Linked DNA regions of Homo sapiens: all the other regions are linked to region 2. The links come from fine-mapping of genetic effects on gene expression. A gene starts in region 2. Each other region holds a variant in brackets. All regions are shown on one strand. Distances are from middle to middle. Region 1 overlaps VDR (vitamin D receptor). Region 2 holds the start of VDR (vitamin D receptor). Region 3 overlaps VDR (vitamin D receptor). Region 4 has its middle 24 kb from the start of TMEM106C.

Evidence for each region.
Region 1: its variant is fine-mapped to the expression of VDR in adrenal gland (GTEx, PIP above 0.99).
Region 3: its variant is fine-mapped to the expression of VDR in blood mononuclear cells (TOPMed, PIP above 0.99).
Region 4: its variant is fine-mapped to the expression of VDR in whole blood (TOPMed, PIP above 0.99).

Annotation. Positions count from the first base shown.
Region 1 is chr12:47,857,311-47,863,146 of GRCh38, forward strand. It overlaps VDR (vitamin D receptor), which reads right to left. Exons shown (of 10, transcript NM_000376.3): 5 at 194-378. Among named protein-coding and RNA genes, the nearest start is that of LINC02354, 31 kb to the left of the region's middle. The variant T/A (reference allele first, on the strand shown) is at 3,260.
Region 2 is chr12:47,901,599-47,907,434 of GRCh38, forward strand. It overlaps VDR (vitamin D receptor), which reads right to left and starts at 3,396. Exons shown (of 10, transcript NM_000376.3): 1 at 3,357-3,396. RefSeq lists an enhancer at 1,806-2,005 and a silencer at 3,389-3,518.
Region 3 is chr12:47,837,175-47,843,010 of GRCh38, forward strand. It overlaps VDR (vitamin D receptor), which reads right to left. Exons shown (of 10, transcript NM_000376.3): 10 at 4,363-5,836. LINC02354 (long intergenic non-protein coding RNA 2354) reads left to right here. Exons shown (of 3, transcript XR_007063292.1): 3 at 644-2,934. Among named protein-coding and RNA genes, the nearest start is that of LINC02354, 11 kb to the left of the region's middle. The variant G/T (reference allele first, on the strand shown) is at 2,891.
Region 4 is chr12:47,936,202-47,942,037 of GRCh38, forward strand. No RefSeq gene overlaps it. Among named protein-coding and RNA genes, the nearest start is that of TMEM106C, 24 kb to the right of the region's middle. The variant C/A (reference allele first, on the strand shown) is at 2,657.

The sequences.
Region 1 (5,836 bases), 44 kb before region 2:
GATCTCTGATAGGAATGGCTTTGAGGAAGGTCTACAGGAAGGCGAAGCCTCCCAGTGCCAGGGGCAGAGCAGCCTCCGTCCCTACCCCAGTTCTGTTCAGGATGTCCCCTGCCCTCTGTCCCTACTCCCTGGGCCCTGGCTCCACTAGTGCTTCTCCTCTGGACCGGCTCATCCTCCCAGCAGGCAGACATACCCGGAACTGGCAGAAGTCGGAGTAGGTGGGGTCGTAGGTCTTATGGTGGGCGTCCAGCAGTATGGCAATGATGCGCTGCTGCTCCTCAGACAGCTTGGGCCGCAGACTGTCCTTCAAGGCCTCCTCCTCCTTCCGCTTCAGGATCATCTCCCGCTTCCTCTGCACTTCCTCATCTGTCAGAATGACTGTGGGGTGGGAAGGGGAGTCAGGAGGGCTGGCCAGCAGCTCCTCCAGGAAACCTTCCTCCTGCGGTTGGGGGTAAAGGTCCAAGATAGGAGGGGCTTTAACACTCGGGGCTCCCTCGGGGGTCCTCCTGCCACGGAGACTCCCACTCCACTGTGTGAAGAAAAATTGGGTTTGCTATGGTGAAAAGGAAGGCACATGCAAGAAGAAGAAAAAGAGGATTTGAGAGGGGGGATGATCTGGGCTTTAGGGAGTCGGGGTTCTCAAGAACAAGTTGTGGGACCTTGGGCAAACTCTCTGGGCTTTTGTTCTTTTGTTTGTAAAATGAGAGATTTGGACCATGTAAGTTCTTCCAAGGTTCCTTTCTTGTACCTTCCTCCATAAAGTGTGTGTGTGTGTGTCTGTGTGTGTTGACATGCAGGTGGGGGAAGTAATAATACCTGCCTCAAAGGATCAACTGATTTGAGAACTGGATGCATGCCTGGCCCAGAGCAGATGCTCACTAAATGTTAGTTCTCTTCTCTTCCCTACCCTGATGTTCCATGATCCTGAAGAAGATATCAGGGTGAAGAGAGGATGCCAGAGCTCTCATAGCGCTGGAAGTGAGATGTGGAGAGGACTCCTCTATGTGGCTGTCTCCACATCCAGGTTTCCAGACATGGGACTGTGGAATATAGAAAGACTAGACCTCTTTGGTTCTCTGCAAAACCACCCCTCCTCCAGCATGTACAGCCTTGACATTTCTGTCCATGGAAGTTTTCAAGTCCTCTTGAAGGCCCCAAAGGGTGAGGCCTTGCAGCTCTAATCTTAGAAGTTCTCTCCAGCCACTAATCAGGGTGTGGGGCCATAGAGAGCCCCACCACCACCTGCAGGCTTCTGCCTGCCTCCCTGTGCTGGGGCAGCTGTGGGGGTGGAGGGGATGCTGGGAGCAAAGGTGCCTGGCACGGCGGCTGGGCAAACAGACCTCCTGGCTGTGGCTTGCTGAGTGCTGACGGCAGGAGTGGGCACCAGGGCCTTTGGCCTGTAGCTACTTGCTTGGTGCTGCTGCTGCCAGGGCATCTGCCCACAGAACTGGGGAGTTTCACAAGAGCAGAGAAAGGAACCAGAAGCCCAGGGTGGGTGAGTTCCAGGCTTTGAGAAAGGTCCATTGGCCCAGGCCCTCAGGTAGGGGGAGGACGAGAGAAGTTGCTGTGGGGTGAGGAAGAGCCTATGCTGGGAGGGAGTGGACAGCCAATGCCACAGGCATGGCAGGAAAGCGAGCGCTACTGCAAGAGATGGTGCTTCCCTCCACAGGGAGCCTGGGAGTAGACCACACCCAGGTGACTGACTCACCTGCCCAAACAGCTGCCAACTCTCCTCCCACAGTGGGTGTCTGCACAGACCCTACCAGGTCAGGCAGGGTGGGAGAGGAAGGGGCAGGGAGCATCCAGGGAAGGCAATGGGGGTAAGCCCTCGCTTGGGGAGCCCAAGATTAGGTGTCTTGTCTTTCCTGCTCACCTGGGGACCAGAGTTAGGGAGACCTGTTTCTGCCAGCCACACCATGGTGTCTACAGGCACGTAGCTCAGCCTGACTGGACTTTGCTAACTTTCCAGTGATTCTGTGATGCCATTCTCCTGCCCAGATACTTTTCTCGGCCCCTACTGATGACCACGTCCAAACTAAAGTTGGCCTCTTCCTAACTTTCAGACTTCATGTCTTAGTGCTTCTGGACACAGCCTCTGTTCTGGGCATGCTGGCATTGCTGCTGGCCTGGGAACATGACCTGCTCATGCTCGCCCCTGCATTTCCAGTTGTGCTAGGTGCCCGTCCAGCTGGGTTTTCTCTCCCCCAAACCTGTATGAGTTCTACCAGTTCTTCAGTGCCTACATCATAGCCATCTTTTTCCATGAAGCATTTCTTGATTGCCCTGATCTGCATCAAGCCTTGTTTTTTTCTGCTGAGCCTCATTTCCTATGCCTGCTACATATTTAGTCTTTCCCACACACATTGACACCCAATTATCTTCTGCTCTGTAAGACTCATGGTTAGCACAGTTTTCAATTCATTACCTATAGACGGAGCCCAAGAAGTTCAAGGTCTCTTTCTCTAGATTACAAGTTACTTAAGGGCAGGGTCCATGTCTTACAATTCTTTCTTTTCTCTCCCTTCCTTTCCCTTCCTTCCTTCCTTCCTTCCTTCTTTCCTTCCTTCCTTCCTTCCTTCCTTCCTTCCTTCCTTCCTTCCTTCCTTCTTTCTTTTTCTTTCTTTCTTTCTTTCTTTCTTTCTTTCTTTCTTTCTTTCTTTCTTTCTTTCTTTCACAGACTCTCGCTCTATTATCCAGGCTGGAGTGCAGTGGCACCACCTCGGCTCACTGCAACCTCCACCTCCCGGGTTCTAAGCGATTCTCCTGCCTCAGGCTACAGAGTACCTGGGCTTATAGGCACATGCCACCATGCCTGGCCAATTTTTTTGTATTTTTAGTAGAGATGGGGTTTCACCATGTTGGCCAGGCTGGTCTCAAACTCCTGACCTCAGGTGATCTGCCCGCCTTGGCCTCCCAAAGTGCTGGGATTACAGGCGTGAGCTACCATGCCCGGCCTTTGTCTTACAATTCTTATATTTCCCCCATAAAGGCTAGACCGGAGGGGCTACCTGGCCGTGGTGTCTGCTCAATAGTCTGACACCAAATATCAAATGCATCCACACAGATTACACCAACTGTGTGCAAATCATTTTCCTGGTTCAGGAAAGGCTAGTGAGTACTCTAGTGCTGCTTGTCTCCTGCAATGTAGTGAATGGCACCTGGCACACCAGAGAGCTGAGAAAGCTGACCTCTTTTATTGAAACAATTGTTATGGAAAGATTTTCAAGACAGAAAACCTTGTAACGGAACACTTTTAACG[T/A]CATATAACCTTTCCCTGATGATTCAGAGGTATCATTCTGAATAATTACTGAACATTGCAGGACAAGGTTACAGCCTCAGAGTTGTCAGAGGCTGTCTGCCCCGCATTGCATGGCTTGGCGTGCTGGGCTTTGGAGTTCTTGGGCTGCTTTTCTTGCTTCCAGTGTCCACCTCCCTGTTAAACTATGCGTTGTCTTCTTATTGGTGTCTGCCTCTGGATGTGTGCCTTTCTCCCCCTTAAGACTTACTTCTGATCTCTTGGGAGCTAGAAGTTCTGGTGATCAAGTTTGATGTAATAAAAAGAAAATATTCGTAATGCTGGATGGCACATAAAGAGTTTTTCTATCTATAAGGCACTATTCTGAGAGCCTTTTGTATATTAACTCATATATTTAGCCCTCATGACAACCCTTTAAGGCAGGTGCTGTTGTTATTCCCATTTAGCAGATGAGGGAGCTGAGGCCCAGAGAGGCTTTCTACCTTTCTCAAAGTCACACAGCTAACAGTGGTGAAACCAGCATTTAGACCTGGGCAGTCTGGTTCTGGAGTGGAAGGTCATAACCACTAGCCTCTACTGTGTCTGATTACATCTGGTTATAAGCGGACTTTGGCTTTCAGCCATGGAGTTTTGACAGGCATTGTGTTCCAATCCATCTGAAGAGTGTGAAAATAAAATTAAGTCACAAAGCTTGTAAATTACCCACTTTAAAGAGACAAAGAAAGTTCAAGTTTAACCCTATAACATGATTCCTCCCAGTCACTTGCATCAAATAGCAACCTCCATCTTCTATGGAGGTAACAGAGGAAGAAATGCTGAGATCTACCAGTTTCACACAGGCCCAATCCATGAGCCTTCTGCAAGGCAACATTGCTTGAGGACTGAATAAGTCTAAAGTCTTTCACATATGCAAATGCACTGTGATTTACGAAATAATTTGTTTAAAGATCTTGTTAATTTCATGGGAAATTTCTTATCATTTTTTCAATGGATTGAACCTAAGATGTCATTACTATCATATAGGAAGACACTATATGATATATGAAGCCATTGACCTAGAATAAGAGTAAACAGGTTCTGAAAGAGTGTTGGGCTGTCTGGTGATCAGGCGTCTAAAGTGCATGAGTTTTGGCATGTGGACTTTGTAAAACCTACATGGCTGCTCAGAAGCTTTTTTTGACTTCATTTTAAGCTCCTTGCTGAGTGTGAAATAATTTTGCGCAAGTTATTCCCATGCAAGACATGTTCTCTCCTTAACGAAGCCAAGATCTGCAACATAAACAATTTGAAAACATTTCAAGATGCCAAGGATGGGCTAAGAACAACCACAGGAAGAGGACATAAAATGTTTCCAAATGAACGGCACAGACATGATCAGGTTTGGGAGAATCTTACTGATCTATAGACCTGTGGAAGATATACAGAGAGAAAGAAGCATAATGAGGAGCTAATATTCATTGATTCCACACATTTATTGAGCACCTACTATGTGCCAGGTACTTTACTAACACCAGGGAGAAAAGACATACATCTGTAAAAACATCAAACAAGTTACCACAATGTGTGGTTCTGTGCAGGACAGGTAATAGTATAAGCAAAAAGCAAGAACTCAGTTATAAAATTTCTTGGGTTCCCAGGGTATAAAGTCAACTAAGAATGGAAAAGAGAGAAAATGAGTCTTTGGTGGGACCAAGCTCTCTTCAATCCATCTCTTAGAGCATGTGAAAGTGCCTGGAAATGCACAATGGAGTGAGCTCCGACCCACTGGGGCCACGAGAGGCTGCCTCGGGTGTGGCCCACAAGCCTGCCCTTTGGAAGCAGAAAGACCTAGATTAGAATGAATGCTGATACCATCATCTTATTAGCTGAGAGCCATGATATTTTAATTCCTCTGAGCTTCCTCAGCTATTGAAAAAATAAAAGTATTTACGTATTTAGGGAGTGTTGTGAGAATTTCAGAAGAAAATGCATGTGCTTGATGTGCTATCTGACACACAGTAGTTGGTCAATACACAGGGTTTCTGTCCTCATCCTTTCCCTTCCTGTGCCTCTTCTATGGAAGGCCCACCTCCTTGCTCGGACAGCAGGAGCCTGGGCTTTTAGCTTTCTTCCTGTGGTTTTACAAATATTGAGACACTCAATTGTCTCTGGGATGCTATGCCTTGGGGACAAAACCCAGCCCAGATAAGAAATGTGCAGCTCTCCCAGGGTTCTGAGGCCGGGGGACTTCACACTGGTGAGGCCTCCTGAAGCTGGACTAACCTGAGGCTGGGAATGTCTCTTCCTGGACAGTCTTCCCTTCAGGAAAGTAAAAAGCATCAGGACGTTTCTATTTTAACTGGATCCCCGCTCCACCAGCCCATCTAGAACTGAGTACTGCTCCCTGCACTGGGATGAGGAGGGTGGTGTGGCGAGAAGCTACCTTGGGCATACAGCAGGATGGGGACACAGGACTCCACAGGAGAGAATTAGGCTGGGGTGGGCGTGGCTGAGGGATGGGGTGGACATCGCTTCTGGGCTGCTGGGTTCCCACCACGTGGTAGGGTGCTCCTGGGCAGGGCCCCCTGATTTACCCCAGGC
Region 2 (5,836 bases):
GAGGTTTGCCTACCCTTGCCTTCCTGGCTGCTTACCTGCTTTACAGCCAGACTTTCTGTGGGATAGTGTGGTCCCCAGAGGTCTGGGAAGCTGGATGAGCAAAATGTGGAGGCTGTAGATATGGAGGAAGAGGGAAGAGGAAACGTGAGGCCCAGTCTTGGCTCCACTATGAACCCCAATTTCCCCAGGGGAAGCTGAAGAGGAGTTGGCAGACCTTCCTGTCCCTGTCTGAGGTTGGGGTGGGGCAGGAAAACCAAAGGTGAGGCCAGTCACAAGTCAAGGGTGAAGGGAAGTCACACGAGTGGTGGGCTGGGTCCCAGGACAGGGTGGCCGGGAGCAGTGCCGCCCCAGGGAAAAGACGAGAATTGGCTGATAACACCAGGGAGCAGGCTAGGGTGTCGGGGGCTGTCCTCAGAATTAAGCTACCCCTGTTTTCCCTTGAGCATTAAGCCTCCCCCAACCTTATCATCCCCTCATCACTGCTGTGACCTCTGCTGAGTTTGGAGTGATGATCACTAGGGTGATTAATATTCCATTTTTCCCTGGAAAGTTTGGGTTTATGTCCATTGTCCTGGTATAACCATGCATGGCATCCCCTTTCACTCTCAGAAGTATCCCAGTTTGCAAGATACATTACACAGGCACTCTTTCTAGCATATCTAGGAGGGCACTGACACAGGAAAAGGTTAGGGACAAATCAGAGGGAAGCAAAATGACAAGCAAGGCCTTGGTGGCCCAGAGTGGCAGCCAGGCTGGCTTCAGCCCAGCTGGATCCTCTCAGAACTGGACAATAGTGGAGGGAGAGCCTGAGAACTGCTGCCCACCCTGGGGCTCAAACTGTCTTGGAGTCAGGGGCCTGGTCTGGTGGGTTCTGCTTCCTGCTATCCCTCAGAGGGCCTGGAGTCATGCTGGGCACACAAGAGGCTCTTAATCAAATCTGGTCAATTCCTTATTTCCCTCTACCTGCATCCAAAACAGAATTGCAGCAGGGACAAATGGAAGCTGGAGCCCTGTAATTCTTTATTCAGCAACACACCAAATGTCATCTAGGTGGTCCTCCCGTCTCTGGCTCTCTGGCCCCTAGGACCTGACTGCTGCACAGGCAACAGCGAGTTTCTAGCAGAGGTTCCAGATGCCTATTCCAGCCAGGACAGCGGTGCCTCCTTAGGATGTGGGGTAAGGAATGAAACAATGGGAACTCCCTTTCGTGTCTTAGATAACCACCTGATGTAGTAGCCACCTGATGTAGCCCACTCGGTCCCAGGCCTTTCTCCATTCACAGCCTGGGCTTTGGACACCTGCTATCTGTTCTGGGGGTAGAGTGTAGGGGTTCAGGAGGTCCTCTCGGAGCTTCCTCTGGGGCTTAGTTACAAAAGAGATCAGTTTTGAGGTCAAATAGGGGAAGAATACTGAGAAACCATAAACACAAACTATCAGGGCACCCCAAACAGCACCCGACCTTCCATAATGTTTATACAAACAAAGTCTGATGGCCTCTGCCGAAGAGGAGTAAAGGGTTGGGAAGGCTTTCTAACTCTCATTTTTTCCCCTCCTTTCTTACCCCATTTTCTAGTCCCTCCTTTAGCTTGGTAAGGGTCCAAGTCACAGCTGATCAAGACCAGCCAAACCCAAAGCCATGGGACCCAGCCAGAGCATAGACTGTGAATTCCCCAGCTTTTTGCAGTTTGAGTCAGCCCCACAGCTGGATTGGCCTCCCAGGACTCTTCTCAAATAGGTCCAGAGAGGCTGCTGAGTGGGGGCCACGGACTCTGCAGGGAGGGCTACTTCTGTTCAACGATCTCTAGCACCCAAAACAAAAGCCAGGGAGAAATGTGCAGTCTTACTACCTTCTGGTCTGGCTGCATGCCAGCCCTGAGACTGTTTCAGAAAGACTCACAGTTCCCTCCAGCACTTGGACAGGGAAGGGACGGCAGGTCTCTCAACACACAACACTCTTAGTCCATAGAATTGAGGCTCCAATGTTCAGATAACCCATTTCTACCTCAGCAAATCACCCTCACTCCCTAGCCTGAGTTAAAGCCTTCTTTGCCAACACCATGACTTCTCTGGCCCCAGACTTTCCTAATTTCTTTTGCTCACCCCCTTCACTAGCAGAGATGGGCTGCTAATGAGACCACTAGGCAGAAATGGAAGGAAGGGCTGGAAAAGCCTGCAGTGCTGGGATGCACCTCCTTATCCCAGGAGAAAGATGAGATGTAGATTTATCATAAAGCCACTATCCCTTCACGGTCACCTCCTGCTAGAATCATCTCATAGCCATTCCATAAGCACTGCTGTGTTGGGTATCTGAGCCCCTGCCCATGAGGAAGACCACCTTCCAGCAGGGAGCTGGAGCAGAGCTGAACTCTGCCCAGGAGAGCTTCTGCAATGCTCAGAAAATGCCTGCCCAACTGCTTGCCTGGGCTCTGGCCCCTTTGGCTGCAACTGAGCCCAGACAGGAGGCTGACTCACTCACCGCACGCATAGAGGAGGAGGAGGAACAAGAGGAGGAGGAGGAGGAGGAGGAGAAGGAGGAGGAACTGTGAGAAGGGTCTGGGCTTGGAGACCTAAGGCTCCCCCAGCCCAGGCTAGGTCTCAGACTCTGGTCCCTGGGTGAAGAGAAGGAGGGGCAGTTGTACACTGGCCCTGGAGACCACAGGCTGTTCCCTCCTAGATACTTCTGAATCTTCCTCACCACCACCCACAGATCCAGGGCACCTCACTTTTCAAACAGAAACTACTCCTTGAGCCCCTTCCTCATTTAAATGCTTGCCCCTGAGTTCCTCTGAACATCTATTGACAGGCTGTCCTGAAAAAAAATAGGGCCAATTAGGTCTAAACTCATTGGTAGTTCAAAGAAAAGTAAAAAAAAAAAAAAAAAAAAAAAAATTACTTAAAAGACCCAACTCCACCATCACAGGTGACCATACCTGGGCCCTGTAAGACAATAAATAAGGTTACACACCCTCCACTCCAGCAGTTCTGAGCACCATCGACAGCCAATCGCTCCTTTTCTTATTCCTCCACTCCATGCCAAGGCGCCCCGACAGAAGAAGGAAACAAATACTTCTTGTTGCCCAAGTGCTAAGCACTGTGTTAGCGGAGCATTTCTCCTAAGCGCCGAGGATGTCGCTGCTCCCCTCGCCAGCCTGGCACGAACTTCAGCTTTCTCAAACCTCAGTGCCCCTTAGTGTCCCAGCCTCATGGCACGACAGCCCGGACCTCAGTAGCCAAGTTTACCGCTGAGACTTAGACTCTAATGCTCGCAGCCGGGCGCTCAGGCCCCGGTATCCCAGACGCCCCGACCCCGAGTCCCTATCCTGAGACCCCCTTTCCCGCTGCTCCCGGGTTCGCACCTGGTCCGGCCGGCGGGTGGACAAGCTGTTCCGCGCTCCCGGCGCACACGGCTCCGCTGCCGCCTTTTGACAAGCAGAGACAGCCCAGCACCTGGCCCCGCCTCTCGGTCAGGCCCCGCCCCGGCCCCGCCCCGCCCCTCCGCCCCGCCCACAGGTCCAGTCCTCTCTTGCCAGGAGCTCCGTTGGCGCTGCAACCATCTTGACTTGGAATCAACCACCCTATAGGCCACGCTGTAGCCTTAGATACTCTAACTCGTGAAATTTTCATCGACCGTCGTCCATAGGGCAAGGCACGCTTCTGCCCTCTGTGGGACAGAGTTGTCGATGATTATAGGTGCGGATACCCGCTTCAGCCTGTGTTAATCGGGGATGCAGCCCCCCACCCTTCCTGCCGTGGTTCTACCCAGCCTGCTGCGGACGCCTGAGCCAGGTGCGTCACCCCCACCTGGGCTGACCAGGCCAGGACTTCGTCGTCCGCGGGACGCTGGGGGGCGCCTGCCGACTGGCACCGGCGGCTAGCTCCGCACGAATGGGAAATCCCGGGCTCCGCTCGCCAACCTGTTACTGCTGCAGAACGCCAGGAAGCTCAGCCTGATCCCACAGATTAGGGTAAAATATCCCGGGGGGCCGAAGTGGAAACCGGAGTTGCGTCATTGCTCCCACCCGATATCACCTTGGCAGCGACCGCGGCTGACCACGTTCCCGGCCTGTCGCGAATCTCACCCAAGGGAGCTGAGTCTCAGCTTCCCTGGTCCCTGGTCCCGAGTTCCGCCTTCCCCCCCCGCCCCGTGGCATCGGCGTGAGGGGAAAAGATAAAGACTACCTCCTGAGACCTGGAATTGTGGATGGCTGCGGAAAACTCACCACAGGAAATTTTGGCTTAAAGTTATTCTCTGCTTCCCTTGACTGTGTGATAGGCACCGCTCTATCTGCTAGAGGACAGGTGAAAAAGATGGGGTTCCCTCTTCTTAGAACTCACTGTGCAGTGGGAGAATGTATAAATAAATAGTAATTACAACATAATCTTCTGGAATAGAAATGCTCACAAAATCATCCAGCAGTCGATGACCTCCTTTAGCCAGGGAAGATATTGCTATTCGCCTCTTACAGAGGAGGAAACCATGGCTCAGAGGGACAAGGTGAAAGGGTGGGAAATTGAGGCATAGAAAGTTTAAGTGATATGCCCAACATGACTCAGCTAATCAATGAAGGACTAGTGCTAGAGCCCAGCAAATCTGCTGGTGCAATGGTCTCTGAACCATTTCTGAGACAGCTATGCTGGACTACATCATAACCAGCCCCTCACAACTCAATAATAGGGTTAAAAGAAATAGACTGAGATTAAATAGAAGGAAGAACCTTCCAACAGTGAAGTTTGTTAAGCACTGCAACAGTTCATTATGGAGGTATCATGGCAACTTTCTGGGAAGACTTAAACAAAAGACAGAAGAGAGGCATAGCGTTTGATTGAACTTGGGAATGGACCATTTATTCTGAGAAACAGATGAAGTGCCCCTTTAGAGGTCCTGCCAGTCTGATGGATGGATTCTCTACCTGTAATGAAAGTAATAGGAAGGATCCCCTTGCCCAAAGCATCGTGGGAAAGCTAGCGGTGATTCTTGTGGGAAGAAAAGCATAAGAGGAAATTTCCAACCACCAATACCTTGGGACATTCTCTGCAAGTCCCATGAGCCTCTGAAAGAGGTTGAACACTCAGAAGTCACTTTTGTGGTGCTTGACTGGCCTGACATCTTGCAAATAAACCTTATCAAAAGATGGTGGAAGATGCGTACTAAGTATTCCGTAGTAACTGAGAGTTAGTCTTTTTTCACAGCCTTTGTTGGAGGAGAGGTACTTGTAATTCACATGTGTAAACTGCTTTATAATTTAAAAATTCTTTGGAATATCTTACTTGATCTTTATCATAGCCTTTTCAGACATGAAGAGTAAAAAATACCGTTCCATTGTACAACTGATGTGCAGAGTTGTCAAGGTTTCTACAGCTGAGGAGTGTCAGAGCTACTGGACCCAGATCTTCTCTCTGCACATCCCACTGTTTCATGCTGCCTCTAAAAAACAAAAAAAAAATTTCCATGCATGCACTTTTCACAGAGTTGAAGAACTCAGAGGTTCTGCGTTTGGCAGATGGGCAAGATTATAGATGTCATCACGGTCCCCAGCACATGCCGTCATCAGCCCCGTCACCTTGTCTGTAACCATGTTCTTCCCATATTCCCCCAATACCTGAACTGTTCTCTCTCATCCACCTCTCCAGACCCTCTCCTCTTTCAGGTCCTGCCTATTCCATCAGGCTTTTCCAACATCTCCAGGAAAGGAACTGTCAATTCTCTGGTCTTTGTAGCGCATGCATTTTCTATATTGCATGGTTTGGCACCTGCTAATGAACCATCTTGTATTTACATTGAACAAAGATAGATTTTTTTTTGCCTGTTTTATTCTTAGAAGGAAGGTTATTTTGT
Region 3 (5,836 bases), 64 kb before region 2:
AATGTCTGTTTTAATTTCTAATGGTACATATTGATGAATCTAACCCACACACACAAAAGTTCTTTGGGGTCCTTCTTTTTAAGAGAGTAAAAGGATGCCAGGACCCAAATGCTTGAGAAACTCTGGTTTAGAGGCAAGCCACAGAGCTGCACGTTCAGAGAACTGCACGTACCCAGACACGGTGGTCGGTTAAGTTTCAATGTCTGGAACAAAGACAAATGACACTGAAGAGATCATGGTGGGGTTTATACCTCATCAGAGAAGCAGGGTTCCAACAAACATGGGGATAAATGAATCGATCAAACCCGATTCTTGAAACTTGTCTTGATTCCCTTTTCTCTGGGCATAAGCCACCCCTTGCCAGAGAATACTGACATTAATTATAGGTCAGTAAATACGCATGTAGTGAAGTCCAGGTGTTGGTGATTGTTGAAGGATTGACATTGACAAATAAAGAACATGACTGAAAGAAGTTGGGGACAGTAGTCACTAGAGTTCCATGCATTTCAGATTTATATTCCTATCTTCCCACCTCTTTCCCACACTTTTCTCCCCAGGCAGCTTTCGGCTGGGGCCAATTTGGTTTATTAAGTGGCACACCTGCCCCCTGGTGGCCAGGTGGTACAATGACACCTTCTCTCAGTTCTGGTAGATATCATGGAGCAGGAGTCCCTAGCACCAAGAAGCTGAGATCCGGAAGAGGCGCCCCAAAAAATCAGCCTGGAGTGAATCTAGAGGGCCCATCAGGGATCGGAGGTCGGAATGTGGGAGCAATGTCACCTCCTTGATAAAAACTTATTTGGCCATCTCAGCAACCCAATAGTGATGTTGGCCAACACATGATTGATAACTACGTGCCAGGTACTGTTATAAATGCTTTACACAGATTATATCACAACAACAGCAAATCTATGAGGTAGGTACTATTATTGTTACCATTCTGTGAAGAAACTGAGGCTCAAAAACATTAAGTAACTTGCCCAGGGTCATACAAATAGCAAATGGCAGAGCCAGGCCTGGGAGACAGCAGTTTACTTGTTAACTGTTACTTTTAACTTGTTAACACTTTGCAGCTTCCACTTGGCATGCCTAGTACTCATCTGTCTGTAGGGCTGTCTTCTCCCACTGCACAGTGCTTTTCTTGGGGGTGGCGACTGTCTTGTTCATCGCCATATCCCCAGCACTGAGCTCGGTGGTGTGGCTGGTTAGAAACACTGGAAGGACTACATAACTTGGCTGGACCTCAGAGGGAACCTGCAGCCTCGCTCACTGTCAGCACGGACTATGCTCAGAGGCCCGGGGCACAAGACCCTGGGAGGCCCTTGGGTGAGGTGTGAGAGGGTCAGATACTCCCTGTTGCCTGGGAGGAGAAGCCAGAGAGCAGATCCCTAACCCCATGTCGCTGGCATGAGGAGAGGTAAGCACCACCAGATGCCCTCAGTAGCAGAGACTCAGAGCCTTGCTGAATCTCACTCATATCATGGAGATAGAGAAAGGGTGGAAGGGGGATGTGATTGGGGCTTTGGGGGCGGGGGGCCAGGCAAGTGGCTCAAAGCTATCCCTGTAGGGCAGTAGCACCACCTCGTGGTGAAACTCAAGATGATTTAGGAAAAATAACCCAGCTAATCCATAACTGAGGGGAGGCTGGGAACCCCCTCCTTTGGAGTCAGCACTCTCCTTGGATAGAGCCACAGGAGAGGGCCTGGAACTCTTCCAGCGTCTCCCCAAGCCAGAGCAGCTCACTCCAGAAGTGCTCACCAGGTTGTATAGAATGTGAAGAAAACACCCCTTATGGACATGTCCTATGGGCCACAGGCTGAAAAGAGCCGCCTAGCTGAGGTCATGTCAATGAAATCACATGCTCTTCAGGGAACAGCCTGCGTCCAATGACTACCTGATGCAGGAATATAGAAGTGTCTCCCTCACTTCATCTTGGGGCAATCCAAAGGGCCATCCCAGCTTCAGAGATCCCCACACGGGTTGATTGAGACCTTCACTGAGACTGCTTTGCAGCCCAACTTCTCCCACTGCTAATTCTACTTCTTTCCCTTCCACCAGGGCTGATAATCCTGAGACTGCTCCCTAACAAGCTCCCTGCACTTCAACCTGCATTTCAGAGTCTACGTCCCTGGAACCCAACTTGCAACACCATCCCGTATATCATATATCACATGCGTGCATACAGAGATTCGGAGCAGCTGTCTGGAGCAGCGAGCTCTCAGATTCCCCCTGCCAGCCACAGGCTCCACACCCTGCTGTGCTTCTGGGTCTTGAGGAGCACAGACTCCCCATCAGCCTCACGGGCTCCCTGCCCACAATGAGGACTAGTTGCCTATAGGATGTCAGCATGATGAGCCATCTCCTTGGCCATGCTGGAGGTGTCAGACAGCATCCATCCTTCTTGTCATCTGCAGGGACCATGGGGCAGGCAGACCGACCTGCACTGCACAGGCAGCCTGCAAGGAGCCTGGTAGAAGCTGGGGAAATTGAAGGGCTGTGGTCACTCCTGGCAGGCCCTGTTTGCTTGCTCCAGGGCTAAAGGAATCAATACTCCTAGCACACCAGTGAGCTATTTATACCACATGATGCTTTGAGCCTATCAACCCCATGGTCTGTGCAGTGTTTTTGCTTTATGTCTCTTTTAAGAAGCAGACTCATTCGAACTACCCCAGGTGTGGCATAGCCCATTGTAAGGGGAGGATGTTCCCTATAGCACTTCCATATGATGTCAAGTTAGTGGCCATTCTGCCCTACAGATCAACAGAAGCACATGACGCCAGCATCCTCATGGAGTCATTCACAATTAGTACCAGATAAGAATGCATTGTGTAGACCAGTGCTGCCCCATAGACTATTCTGCGATGATGAAAATGTCACGCTTGTAATCCCA[G/T]CACTTTGGGAGGCTGAGGCGGGCAGATAACTTGAGGTCAGGAGTTCAAGACCAGCCTGGACAACATGGTGAAACCCTGTCTCTACTAAAAATACAAAACTTAGCCAGGCATGGTGTCAGGTGCCTGTAATCCCAGCTACTCATGAGGCTGAGGCAGGAGAATGGTTTGAAACTGGGAGGCAGAGGTTGCAGTGAGCCGAGATTGTGCCACTGCACTCCAGCCTGGGTGACAGAGCAAGACTCTGTCTCAAAAAAAAAAAAGAAGAAAAAAGAAAGAAAAAAGAAAGAAAGAAGAAAGAAAAAAGGAAGAAAATGTTGTGTATTTGCACTGTCTCTTACGGTAGCCCTGAGGTTATCAAATACTGGAACTGTGGCTTGTGCGGTTGACAAGCTAGATGTTTACCTTTATTTCATTTAAATACTCACATGTAGCTAGTGGCTACTGGATTGAACAGTGTAGGCATAGAACCAAAGCTTGGAATATGAAAACTTGAAAACACTTGATCCTAATTATGCAACCTTCCTGGGGTATATTCCTCTTGGTTTACCTGGAAAAGCGCATTATAACACAGCCTTGGAAATTTTGTGTTCTTCTAGGTCAGCTATAAAAATGCTACATAAGATCCTTCTAACAGTGTATCAGAACTCCATTCTCCACATTTCTCCAGCCAGAGACATGCCCATTTATGCAGCTGTTGATTTCCTTTCTCTAAGTCCCTTCATGTTTCACAAAATAACCCTCAAGTTCTAACCCCAATTCCCCTAAGTCCATCTCATCCCACTGAAACACATTTTAGCCTTTGGTTTGAAATATTTTCAGATGTTTCTGAAAAATTAGAGTGAATCACATCCCCAGGCCAACTTATCCTCAATCAATACATTAGCTGGCATGATTTCCTTATTTTCAGATCACAATGCTGTGTTCTTGTTTACTGTGCCTAGCAATGCTACCCTTCATCATAAACCCCACTTCCTTGGGAAGCAGAATGGAGTGCATCGGCATAAGTTGGGCCCCTTAGGAGTCCTGTTTCTGCACAGCAGTCATTTGTAATCCTCCAGGTCACTGGCACAGCCGCCATCTCTAATGGCAGACACAGTTTTGCCAGTAGCTGTTTGGTTTTCATTTTTGAGGGTCTCACGTAGGTGTCATATATTGACTGCACACTTCCTGGGAGTAGAGCACAGTTTGGTCCAGCACCTCTAATTTTCCTGGCTCAGGGCCTGCTTTAGGAATGGGAACCTCTTTTATCTCCTCTCTAGGAGAGAGCTAGCAAGACCATCAGTCGTCTGTCAGGTCCCCCAACTCAATAGGAAGCAGGACAATGTAGCAGTTAATTTGTGGCTTCTGAACCTAGCTGCTGAAGGTTCAAATCCCATCCCTTGCTAGTGTGGCATTGCTCAAGCTATCCTTTCTGTCAAATGGGGGTAATAATGATTCATCTCCCATAAGGTCCTTATAAGGATAAGGCAAATTGGTTTGCATAAAGCATTTATTTACAGCAGTACTTGCAACAAAGTAAGTGCTATATAAGTATGAGCCATTTTTATTACCATAAGCAAAGCTTTCTACATTGGTTGACTTGACAAACTTCTGGCAAACTTTTTTTCTCTTTGGAAATCATTCAGCAGGCACTGTTTACATCCTTTCGCTGCCATATCTCTAGCTTTCACTAAATCTGCCACACATTCCTGCCTTCTCTGTTGACCTCGCTTGGATTCTCCTACATGCTTCCAGTTAGCCAGCCAGAGGATTTTCCTGTCTCTGGGAATCTTGTGGAAAATCTTGCATTTTGGGGCACCTTCTCCTTCAGTTATAATGATATACCTTAAAAGTTTTACATTTACAAATGTCTATTTCACACTCTCATTCTAAAGTAGAATCGATGATGACCTTTTCTCCCCGTTCAGCCCCATAAAAACTCATTTTCCCCTCTTTTCTTTTCCTCCCAGCTCCTAGACTTCCTTTGGAGGAGTGGCCTAGGTGGTGGGGCCCAGGGCTGAGTAACTGATATTTCCAGGAGTTCCCCGAAGAAGGCAGGGCCAGAGGGAGAGCTGGGAAGGTGGTGACATTACAAAGACAAATGCATGTTATAGATGAGGCAACAGCATTATCCAAGGCTGAGGTGGAGAGCCCAGCAGGCCAGGGCCACATCGTGGTGGGGTAGGGTCTGATTCACATTGAGGCAGAGGTGAGTCTCCTTCCTTCTCCTTCTGATGGGTTGGTGGAGTTACAAGCCAGGGAAGGAAGGAAAGGGTCCCAGATCCAGACTTGCTCTTTCTGAAATCCAGGGCTTCCCCCAGGGACTGGGTCAGCCACCTGGGGAATGAGAGTGGGGGTCTGAGCTCAAACATGGTGTAGTGAAAAGGACACCGGACCATGACTCCAAAATCTGGTCCTGTCCTGGTCCACTTCTAAGACGGAGTTTCGCTCTTGTTGTCCAGGTTGGAGAGTAACGGCACGATCTCAGCTCACTGCAACCTCCACCTCCTGGGTTCAATTCTTCTGCCTCAGCCTCCTGAGTAGCTGGGATTACAGGCTTGCGCCACCATGCCCGGCTATTTTTTTTTTTTTTTTTTTTGTATTTTTAATAGAGACAGGGTTTCTCCATGTTGGTCAGGTTGGTCTCGAACTCCCGACCTCAGGTGATCCACCTACCTCGACCTCCCAAACTGCTGGGATTACAGGCGTGAGCCACCGCGCCGGGCCTGTCCTGGCCCACTTCTAGCTAGTTATATATGCTTGGGTGAGTCACGCCCTCCTCTGTCAGTTTTCCTGAATGAGGGGATTGACTCGTTTAGCAACTTACAAGTGTTTTCTCCCACTGAAGAGCAAGCTGGACCAATACGTTCTGCAGCTAAAATCAAACAAGGGTCTCTCCCTAGACCCTTGTAAAATAACAACAGCAATAATAATTAATGTACAGAAGTTTCACAATGTAAGTTCTC
Region 4 (5,836 bases), 35 kb after region 2:
ATATTTGGTGCTTTATATTTGGGATTGTGTTGCTTTTTTTTTTTTTCTGTAACTGGCAGACCAGTTACGTACAATTTAGGCTAATAGTAAATTTCATTGCATTTTCTGAGCACGCATTAATAGAGAATGAAACAACAACAAGAAGAGAAGCAACAATGGCCTTTTCTAGCATGACCTCCTTTTTAGGGTCAGTCACATGACAGGTAGCTGCAGAAAACCAGCCTAGTATGAAAGATCAGTCCTAGATAATCTAGGACAATCATGGAGTTGCTTACAAATATACATTAGATGTAATAATATGTGGAGAGATCTACTTAATAATAATGTGTGGAGAGGTATCTGTATATCTGCAAGGATTTAGGCCACCCTATTAAAAGTGCACCTGGCAAGCACAAGTGCAGGACTTTGGCACTTTTCTAGTTAACTTGCTAAATATACGTGGCCAAACCAGATCATTCAGGCCAGTGGTGATTTTTGAACCTAAATATTCTGGTTTGGCTGTTTTCATTTGTAAAATTAACCTGATACTTGCCAAATCACTGCTTCATTCATGCTCTATGAAGAGAAAAGTAATGCTCATGTGAGTGTGAACACACATGTGATTTAATATGTGTATTTACATGTAACTCAGCTTTGTTGAAATGGTATGTACTCAGACATTCATCCCACAAATGGTGGGAAATCCAGGTATCTAATCCTAGTATGTCTAGGAATGTTTGAGGTGGGAATGGAGTTGGGCTTATGTTTCTTTCAGTCACTTCTGGCTCTAAGTTCCTGCTTCTATGGAATTTTATCTCTTTTTTTAATGTCTTGCCTCTTGTGGACATTTCCACCTCCGCCTCCATTGGTTCAAACATGTAATTCAGCCCATATTTCTTAATTTCTCTAAGATGTTACCACAAAGGCCAGGCGGTGTCTACTGTATGTGGACTACTGTAGAGCTGAAAGTAACTGAGGGGCAGTTCTTTGCTGCATAACAGAATCAGTCGTAATGTTGATCATTAGAATCTTTGTCCTTAAAAGTCTTTCAGTTCTTTCCTTTCCCCATATTCCCACCATGGGGAATTGTCTTCTACTTGGACTCAAGCCTCCTACCATGTTGTGGCTCCTTCCTCGTCCAATCTCCTTCTAAACTAACCAACACTCACCCACAAATTCCTATGTTGGTTATGTCTGTCTCAGTCAAAGCCCACTCCATGCAAGGACTGCCTTCCACAACCCAAGTGGCCCATCATGGTGTTCGTTCAACAAAGTGCTTGAGGAAGAATTTTCCCTGTCAGTGACAGAGGCCCCTTTCCTAACACACCAACACCTTGTGTTACAGACAGCAGTCCTTGTGCTAGTGTGTACATGTGAATGTGTGTGCAAGTATGGGTGAGAGCATATGTATGTACAAGTATGTGTATGTGTGACTGTGTGTGTGCACATGCAGGGACAGCCCTAAGAATTAGATCAAATGTTATTGGGAAAAGGCACAAAGTAGATGTTTAGACTCACTCGTTAGGTGTTGGATCTAGAGCTAGGAAATCCCACATGTCAGTCTTATGAGGGCCCCAAGGAGGGGATTCCCTATACCCAGACTGCATCTGCTTGAAAATTAATTAATTAATTGTGAAATGACATAGAGATGATGCAAAGGAAAATAAAGAGATAGAGCCATGGGGAACTGGAAAGACAGAAAAAGAATCCATTGAACAGCAAGTTCCAAGGTCATCTTGATTCTCAGAGACCTGGGCTACAGTGATTTGCCATACATGCCACTGGGAGGGACAAAGTTAGGTAGGAGTTTCTACTTCTTGGGCATGAAAGACCGTGGGGAGGGGGAGCAAGATGAGCTATATAGCCTCCCCATCCCCAGAGATCTCTGAGGCCCAACATAGCCCACCTGTAAAAATGGAGCCAGGTCCTGGCCTTCCTGGAGGGAGAAGGAGGGCAAGGATGAGCTCTAAAAGCGAAACCTAGTTTAAGAGATTTCCAAGCAAAGGAACATGAGCCCAGCTGCATCCCCAGAGTTAGAAGGAATGGCTTCTTGAGGGTTGGGGGAACAGGATGTGGTTAGGATTTCTTATTTATTTATTTATTTATTTAGAGACAGATTCTTGCTCTGTCACCCAGGCAGGAGTGGAGTGGCACAATTATGACTCACTGCAGTCTCAACCAGCTGGGCTCAAGAAATCCTCCTGCCTTACCCTTCCAAATAACTGGGACTACAGGCAGCACTCCCCAACATGCCTGGCTATTTTTTTTTTTATGTTTTGTTGAGACAGGGTCTCCTTCCATTGCCCAGGCTGGTCTCAAACTCCTGGGATTAAATGATTCTCCTGCCTCGGCCTCTCAAAATGCTGGGATTACAAGTGCAAGCCACTGTACCTGCTGGGGTTAGCATTTCACCAGCTCCTTCTCTCACACTGCTTATGTTCTCCAGGGTTTAGAGCCTCCAGAGGAGTGAGGGCTGTAGACAATGTGTTCAATGTCACACATGTCACAGGGAGACGCAGGCAAGACCAGGACGCCAGTGGACGAGTGCTAATGGCCTTCCCTATTGTGTGTCCAGGCAGCCCCACTGGGCCCTGGCATAAAGAGGCCCCTGAAGTCTGTGCTCTGCCCTTGTTGCAGGGCAGCACTGCCAAGCCCAGGAGAATCCTCTCTCTACTTA[C/A]CTCCTCCAGCCCCACTAGATTCTGACCTGGCTTGAACAGCCATGCCCCTCCAACTGGGATGAGTTCTTCAAGGAACGAGAAATGGAGACTGCATCCCAGCTCCATCCCTGACTTCCTGTGTAACCTTTGCTAAGTTGCAGAATCACCTGAGCACCCATTTCCTTGTTTAGGGAATGGCAGTAATAATGACTACTTTGTGGGGTTGTTTTAGGATGAAATGGAGGGTACCCGACTTTGGTCTGGGGGACAGTGGAACTGGTCTGGCTTCCTCCAGGGCCACATCATGTTGTCCAGTGCTCAAGCACTGAGCACTTGAGGGCAGGGACAAGTCTCACTTATCTCTGTGCCCTCAGTACCTGGCACAGTGCCCAGCTCATTCTATGGTATCCAATAAGCATGTGTTGAGCTAAAGTTGGCAAGTCAGAAGGTCATGGAGAAGGAAGCATCTGACAGGTTCTGTCTGTCACCTTCAAAGGGCAAGGATCTCAGTCCCCATCCCCACCCCAGGACCCACCTCCCCCAAGCCCCACCCAGCTCTCAGTGTCTCTCAGCACTTCCTCTTCGCCTCGTTTCTTTCTTGGGCCAAGGATCACCCTGGGAGTGTCCCATACGGGTGCGCTGTGATGACGTGCCCTGCTCTTGCCTAAGATTAGGTTCCATAACTGCTCCACCTGAACCCAGGGCTCTGCACACTCCCTGGGTCCCATTACTCCATCAGGCCTGGACCCCCTCCCACCACACCCTCCTCACTCACCTAGTCCAGATAAAATATAGGATACCCAATTGAATTTGAATGTCAGATGTACCTATACTAAAAGAAACCATTGTTTATCTGAAATTCAAATTTAACTGGGCATCTTGTAGTTTTATTTGTGAAGTCTGGAAAGCCTACCTAGGCAGTGCCTTTCTACCAACCATGGTCTTCCCTTCCTCCATACCTGTCTTCCAGTCCCACCAGAACCTAAATGACCTTAGCAACTGGGACCATTCATTCTTTTATTCACTGACTCATCCGACACATTTTTATTGCACATCTACCAAGTGCCAAGCCGTCTGCTAAGCATTGGGGTTACAATGATGGAAATATCAGACATAGCCCCTGCCCTGTAGAGTTTACATTCTGGAGTGAACAGCAAAGGTGAAGGTGAAGAAACAAATAAATAAAATTATTACAAAGTACAATCCATGCTATTATGAAAAGAAATCAAATAGAGGACTGAAATAGAAATTAGAAGAGGAGGGCTGGTTTGGACAGGGCAGTGAGGAAAACTTCTCTGCAGAGATGACACTCAGGTGGATGTGAAGAATGAAAATGGGGCCAGCTCAGTGTGTGTGTGTGTGTGTGTGTGCGCACGCATGCACATGCTGGGAGAGGATGGGATTCTAGGCCCTATGGTAGGAAAAGAAGTTTGACTAGTGGGAGCTGAAAGACTCAAGCACCTGGCCAAGGATAAGGGGTATGAGATAAGGCTGGGAAAATGGGAAAAGTGTGGAATTACTCAGGGCCTCACAGGCTATGGTAACATTCCAAACACACACACACATGCATGTGCACATATGCACACACACAGCACACACGCATGGGCACACTGAAAGCTTCTGGAGAAAAGATATCATGAACCGAATGCTATTAAAAGACAGTTCTGGTTGTTTGTTTGTTTGTTTGAGACAGGGTCTTACTCTGTCACCCAGGCTGGAGTGCAGTGGTGCAGTCTCAGCTCACTGCAGCCTGGACCTCCCAGGCTTAAGTGATCCACCCACCTCAGCCTCCCGAGTAGCTGAGATGACAGGTGCATGCCACCACACCTGGCTGATTTTTTTTTTTTTAATAGATGAGGTCAAGCTATGTTACCCAGGCTGGTCTCAAAGTCCTGGCCTCAAGTGATCCTCCCAAAAAGACAATTCTTCATACTTCCTGGAGATTGAAATGGAGGAGGTGAGGGTTGGCAGCAGGCAGGCCAGTCATGAGGCCACTGTGGAGTCCAGGTAAGAGAGGATTTCATGGATGCATTAAGTCGAAATGTCCGCGAGGCCTCCAACAGAAGTCTCCAAGGGAACTGCTTCTGGGGGTCAGAACTCAGAGGAAGAATGGGGTTTGCCACCATACAGATGGTGTCTAAACCACAGAAACACAGCAGAGGGTACGGCAGGACCAAGTCCACGTGGCACTAGCTTTCCAGTCACTTTGGTGGCTTAGAAAAACCAGGGCCATGGTGGCCATTGAGAAGAATGGTGGCAAAGCAAGTGCATTTTTTGTGGGATCTGGTGGACTGGACGATATATTGGATGTGAAAGGTAAGGCAGCACCAAGGACTGCAGTCTTCAGCAACTAGAAAGATGAAGGTGAGGCAGGCTAGATTGGGGGTGACAGGGGGGAATCAAGGGTTGTCATCTGGATGCATTAAGTCGAAATGTCCGCGAGGCCTCCAACAGAAGTGTTCAAGGGAACTGCTTCTGGGGGTCAGAACTCAGAGGAAGAATGGGGTTTGCCACCATACAGATGGTGTCTAAACCACAGAAACACAGCAGAGGGGATGGCAGGACCAAGTCCACGTGGCACTAGCTTTCCAGTCACTTTGAAGAGAAACCTGCCAAGAGGCCTGAGAAGGAATCACAGACAAGGCAAGAAGGAATCACAGACAAGGCAAGAAGGAACCAGAAGGACAACGCCGCATGGGGAAGCAGAAGGGAGAAGAGAGGGCCTCCGGAGGGTAGTCAGCTGAGGCCGGGCTGCTGGGAGAGGACATGGGAGGCACAGAAGCTCTCCTCAGGCCGAGTTGCATATGAACAGCTGCAGTGAAGCAGTGGCTGGGGCTGGGGGAGGAAGTGGAGGCAGCAAGGGGCCCTGCTCTTGTGAGGAGGCGGCTGTGGAAGGGTCAGCGCGATGTACTGGCAAAGACGGATCCTGGAGAGGGATACTTTTAGAGATGAGAGGTAGAGCATGCTGATGGGAATGGTCCAGGAGAAAGCAGGGTGGGGTTAGGGGTCAGGGGAAGATATGAAAGACAGCTGAGGCACCCTCTCCCTCAGGTGCCCCCGTCTTCCTCCACAAAGGCGAGGGAGCCGCGGCTGTGGGACCTGGACCCAGGCTTGGATGGAAGGCAGAGGCCCAGCCCCCGCTCGGGTGGAGAAAGCCGCGGAGGGGAGGACCTGCCTTTGCTCTGGAAATAGAAAACCAA